2 separate regions of the Homo sapiens genome follow, and region 1 is linked to region 2. The links come from fine-mapping of genetic effects on gene expression. A gene starts in region 2. The other region holds a variant in brackets. All regions are shown on one strand. Distances are between the middles of the regions. Region 1 overlaps TMPRSS9 (transmembrane serine protease 9). Region 2 holds the start of TIMM13 (translocase of inner mitochondrial membrane 13).

Region 1 (2,897 bases), 39 kb before region 2:
ATAGGATTACAGGCGTGAGCCACTGCACCCAGCCAGGATTTGAATTTTAGTGTCCATAAAGTGTGACGAGAACATAGTTGTGTCTAATTCTTTACACGTGGTCGGCTGCTTTAGCGTGACAATGGGAGAGTGAAGGGACACAGTCCTGACTGCCTTGTGAGCATGAAAATATTTACTGCTGCCAGCACAGTGGCTCACACCTGTCATCCCAGCACTTTGGGAGGCCAAGGCAGGTGGGTCACTTGAGGCCAGGAGTTTGAGAACAGCCTGGCCAATATGGTGAAACCCCATCTCTACTAGAAATACAAAAATTAGCCAGGTGTGATGGCACACGCCTGTGGTCCCAGCTACTTGGGAGACTGAGGCATGAGAATCACTTGAACCTGAGAGGCGGAGCTTGTAGTGAGATCACGCCACTGCACAGTGCACCTGTGGTCCCAGCACTTTGGGAGGCTGAGGAGGGAAGGTTGCCTGAGGCCAGGAGTTCAAAACCAGCCTGGGCAATGTAGCAAGATCCCCTCTCCACAAAAAACAGAAAAATGAGGCCGGGTGCAGTGGCTCACGCCTGTAATCCCAGCACTTTGGGAGGCCAAGGCGGGTGGATCACCTGAGGTCAGGAGTTCAAAACCAGCCTGGGCAACATAACAAGATTCCCCTCTCTACAAAAAAATAGAAAAGTGAGGCTGGGTGAGGTGGCTCATGCCTGTAATCCCAGCACTTTGGGAGGCCGAGGTGGGTGGATCAACTGAGGTCAGGAGTTCGAGACCAGCCTGGCCAACATGGCAAAACCCCCTCTCTACTAAAAATATAAAAATTAGCCAGGTGTGGTGCTGGGCGCCTGTAATCCCAGCTATTGGGGAGGCTGAGGAAGGAGAATCGCTTGAACCTGGGAGGCAGAGGTTGCAGTGAGCAGAGACTGTGCCACTGCACTCCAGCCAGGTCAACAAGAGTAAGACTCCATCTCAATAGAAAAGAAAGGAAAGGAAAGGAAAGGAAGGGAAGGGAAAGGAAGGGAAGGGAAAGGAAGGGAGGAAGGGAGAAAGGGAAGGGAAGGGAGAAAGGAAAATGAGCATGGCGTGGTGACGTACACCTGTGGTCCCAGCTATGGGAGGCTGAGGTGGGAGGATCACTTAAGCCCGGAAATTTGAAGTTGCAGTGAGCCGAGATCGCACCACAGCACTCCAGTATGGGCAACAGAGAGACTCTCTCTCTCTTTAAAAAAGAAAAAATAAAAATCAGGGGTGGGGTGTGAAGGTCAGGAGCACTTTGGGTTTTAGGCTGCTGGAGGGATTTTAGTGTGTGTGTCGCAGGGATGATGTAATCTGATGGACACTTCAAAGGCACCCTTAACGGCTGTGACCAGCTCACAGAGGGGCAGGGGAGGGAGGAAAGAGGCCAGTCCCTCCAGACGGGATGCTGGTGGGCTGTCCAGAGCCGTAGCTGCACAGATGGTGAGGAATGACTGGATTAGGAATCTCTTTTGAACACTAGCCAACAGGAGTTGTTGATGAGTGTGACAGAAAAAGAGTCTGTGGTCACAAATTCTTTG[A/C]TGCACCTCCCTTCGAAAGCTGGCACTCAGGCTGGGCGCGGTGGCTCACGCCGGTAATCCCAGCACTTTGGGAGGCCCAGGTGGGAGGATCGCGTGAGGTCAGGAGTTTGAGACCAGCTTGGGCAGCATAGGAAGACTCCCTCTCTACAAAAAACTTAATTAGCTGGGCATAGTGGCACACACGTGGCCCTAGCTACTAGGAGGCGGAGGTGGGAGGATCGCTTGAGCCCAGGAGGTGGAGGCTGCAGTGAGCTGTGATCACACCATTGCACTCCAGCCTGGGCAACAGAGAAAGACCCTGTCTCAAAAACAAACAAAAAAGGAGGCGGGAGGGTGAGAAAGAGAGACTGGAAGAGGCTGCACTGTGGCTGTGAAGGGAGAAGAAGGGGCCCTGAGGCTTAAGACGCTGGTAAAGATGGGAAACGTATTCTCCCCTGGAGCCCCCAGAAGGGCCCAGGCCTGCCCACAGCTCGATGGTGAGCCCTGCAAGATGGATCTCAGACTTCTGACTTTCAGAACTGTGAGATAATCAATCAGTATTCCATTTTTAAATTCTTTGAGACAGGGTCTGGCTCTGTCACCCAGGCTGGAGTACAGTGGCACAATCACAGCTCACTGCAGCTTCCACCTCCTGGGCTCAAGTGATCCTCCTGCCTCAGCCTCCTGAGTGGCTAGGATTACAGGCATGAGCCACCACATCTGGCTAATTTTTGTTCATTTTTTGTGGAGATGGGGGTCTCACTATATTGCCCAGGCTGGTCTCAAACTCCTGGGCTCGAGCAATCCTCTCACCTCAGCCTCCCACAATGCTGGGATTACAGGTGTGAGCCACCACGCCTGGCCGAAAACTCGGTGTCCCTCTAAGCCCCCAAGCGTGGGGTCCTTTGTTACAGCAGCTGTGGGAACTTCAGACTTACTCTTTCTAGCAATGGACCGCAGCGACCCACGGGAGTCCTCATCCTCACACAGCCGCCCAGCCAGCAGTCACGTTCCACCTTTTTTTTTTTTTTTTGAGATGGCGTCTTGCTCTGTCGCCAGGCTGGAGTGCAGTGGCGTGATCTCAGCTCCCTGCAACCTCCGCCTCCCGGGTTCAAGCGATTCTCCTGCCTCAGCCTCCCGAGTAGCTGGGATTACAGGCGCCCACCACCACGCCTGACTAATTTTTTGTATTTTTAGTAGAGATGGGGTTTCACCATGTTGGCCAGGCTGGTCTCAAACTCTTGACCTCAAGTGATTCACCCACCTTGGCCTCCCAAAGTGCTGGGATTACAGGCATAAGCCACCGCATCTGGTCTTTTTTTTTTTTTTTTTTGGAGTCTCGCTCTGTCACCCGGGCTGGAGTGCAGTA
Region 2 (2,897 bases):
CTAGGGTCACTCCTAGAGGGGCCAATGACCCAAGGGCTGCTGTAGGGGAGGTACCGGCCTCTGAACCCCCTTTCTTCTCTCCCCAACAGGGTGACGCTGGGGGACCCCTGGCCTGCAGGGAGCCCTCTGGACGGTGGGTGCTAACTGGGGTCACTAGCTGGGGCTATGGCTGTGGCCGGCCCCACTTCCCAGGTGTCTATACCCGGGTGGCAGCTGTGAGAGGCTGGATAGGACAGCACATCCAGGAGTGACCACCACGTGACTGCCCAGGCCGAGACTCTACGTGAAAGCAACAGGAGCAGCAGGCCACCCAACACCCCACCCCACCGTACCCTACCCAAGGACGGGTGTGGGGGGGCTGTGGGTCATGGGGATGCATTTTGGTACCACCCTTTGTTCCAATAAACACAGCCCCTCCACCCTAGCTCACTGGCTCAGCACCTCAGTGTCACAGCGAGGACCACCTGCCTGGTGCTCCACCAGGACCCGGGGTGGAACGAAGCAGGGTCAAAGCAAGCCCTGACAAGGGGAAGGCTGTCCCCCTTAGCCTTTGGGGCAGGGGTGGCAGCAGCAACACATTCCTCGTGACTCAGCAGCCCGGTGGCACTAAGGGGAAAGATGGACTTCTCCCAACCCAGGGGAGGCTGAGACCCTCCGAGCTGGGGTTCCAGGGACACGCGTCACCTCTTCCCAGAGACCCCTCAGGAGGGAAATAAAGAGGTTTCTCTCCGTCCTCCACCAATTTATTTGCCCATCCGCAGGAGGTGACAGCTCCTGTGGTGTCTGACCACCCCCAACTCCGAAGTCCAGACAAGCTGTCCGCCCAGAATATGAGGCTGACTTGGGCACACTAGGGGAATACCCCAAAGGCCTGAAGGAGGTGCCACTGGGCTGCCAGCACTTCAGGAAGGCACAGGGCCCCACACCCCCGAGATCCAAGCTGCACTGGCTGGCAGGGGGCAGGGCGGGGGGTGGCGAGGACACAGTCCCGTGTGTCCCAGCACCGGTGCCACCCTCCTAAGCCCCGGGCAGGCAGTACGTACATGCGGACCCCGCCTCTCAAAGCACGTTTATGGAAATGAACAGGGTGGGGTGGCCCGCGCTCGCCGGTCACATGTTGGCTCGTTCCCGCTGCAGCCGCGAGTTGTAGGCGCGAGACACGGTGTTCCAGGCGTCCATGTAGCGGTCCATGCACATGGCGATGCACTTCTGCGGGAGCGGAGGGGCGCACGGCTCAGCTCGGGACTTCGCGGCCCCGGGGACCGCCCTGACCCCGGCTCCAGGACGCCCGGGCTGCAGACTACGCACGTGCAGTGACCACTCCGTCGCACCTCCCCGTTAGTCTGCGCACGCGCAGACACCTCCCCCCTCGAATCTAGGCCCTCGCGACCCTTGCCCCGAACCTCCGCGGGTCTCACCTGCTCGGAGTTGTCCAGGGAGCCCCCAGGTTTCCCTATACACTTCCGGAAACACTTGTCCGTCATCCTCTGTGGAGACACGCGAGGCTTTAGCCGCGACGTCGGCCCCCAGGGGTGGCCCTGTCGCCCCCAGCGCCCGTCCCCGGCCAGCCCCGCACCTGCAGCAGCTCCTGCGCGTTGGCCACGGCGATCTGCACTTTCACCTGCTCCATTATGAGCCCTGGGTCCAGCTTCCCGCTGCCGGAGCCCCCGAAATCGGAGCCGAAGCCGCCCTCCATGGCTCCGCAAAGTCAACCGGACCGAGGCCGCGTGCGCCGACTCGTAACTAACTGCGCCGGAAGCGGGCCGCCCGGGGCACCACGGGAAACGGAGTCCGCGCGGACGGGGACGGAGGACTACAACTCCCACACGACCGCGCGCGCCCGGGCCATTCAAGGTCGCGCGGGGGGCCCTCCGCTCATGCGGAGGCCTGGACCTGCCGTTACCTACACGAGCTACCCGTGGTTGCGACTCCGCGGGAAGAGGGAGGCCCTGACTTGGCCGGGGAGTAGGGGGGCTACTACGTGCGGCCGAGGCCGATCACTTTGTACTCACGCTCTGCCTCCAGCTCGTCCCGAAGGGCCTGCCGCGCATGCGCACGAGGCACCCGGCGCGTCTATACAGCGTGTTGCCGCCGGGGCGGAGCCCGGTCGCATCACGTGACGAAGAGTCAGCTTGTGCAACAGCGTCGGAGGCTCACTAGAAAAAAAAGGGCAGGGTCCCATGCATCGCCTGGGTCCTGTTTACACTAGCTACACTAGCCAGTGACCTTTTTCCTTGGGGGTGGAGGGATCTTTCTTAGACATCCGCTTCATTAGGGCAGAGGCCCCGGCTCGAGCTTCCCCTCAGGAATAAACTCAGAGGCAGAACCTAAAATCAAAATGTTTATTGGAGTGTTGTACAAAAAAGTTTCCAGTCATAAAATGTATATTACAAATCATTGGAAAAAAAAAAGAACACATTAGGCATGCATCTTCTTAAAAACCGAATCTCTGAAATGAAAGTCCATGCCAGCCCCAGCTGCAGCCCAGCTCCGTTTTTGCAGGTTGTGCTGTGACGCTCGCTGGACGCAGGGCTTGGAAGAGGCTGCAGGCGGCGACGCCCCAGGACTGAGGAGTCCCTCAGATCTTTAACAAAGAACTGCCGCGTGCAGGCTTCAGACCAACCCCAGCCAAAGCCGCTGGCATGAGGACAGGTGCATGATCGGATTCTGGGTCAGCCCGCAGGCCTCCCGGCTCCTGGGCTCAGCGGGGCAGGCTTCAGCGTTAACCTGGCGCTGTGCACCCCAGAACCCGCGTTGGTCCAGCAGGCGTGGGCCTCCCCCCAGGGCTGGGTGGCGTCTGATGCTTCGCAGGGAGGGCGCTAGGCTTCGAGTCACACGGCACGGGCTTACACAGAGGGATGGTTTCGCATCGTTCTAAGCGGCACACAGCTAAGCGT

The links. PIP is the estimated chance that this variant, and not a neighbour inherited with it, causes the effect.
Region 1: its variant is fine-mapped to the expression of TIMM13 in whole blood (INTERVAL, PIP 0.91).

The regions. Positions count from the first base shown.
Region 1 is chr19:2,386,532-2,389,428 of GRCh38, forward strand. The region is part of intron 1 of TMPRSS9 (transmembrane serine protease 9); the gene reads left to right. Among named protein-coding and RNA genes, the nearest start is that of TMPRSS9, 28 kb to the left of the region's middle. The variant A/C (reference allele first, on the strand shown) is at 1,550.
Region 2 is chr19:2,425,838-2,428,734 of GRCh38, forward strand. TIMM13 (translocase of inner mitochondrial membrane 13) reads right to left here and starts at 1,749. Exons shown (of 3, transcript NM_012458.4): 1 at 1,577-1,749; 2 at 1,419-1,487; 3 at 1-1,209. The coding sequence starts at 1,696. The coding sequence ends at 1,111. TMPRSS9 (transmembrane serine protease 9) reads left to right here. Exons shown (of 19, transcript NM_001395513.1): 19 at 90-424. The coding sequence ends at 251. It overlaps LMNB2 (lamin B2), which reads right to left. Exons shown (of 12, transcript NM_032737.4): 12 at 2,329-2,897. RefSeq lists enhancers at 496-1,239, 1,240-1,985, 2,070-2,219 and a silencer at 1,430-1,519.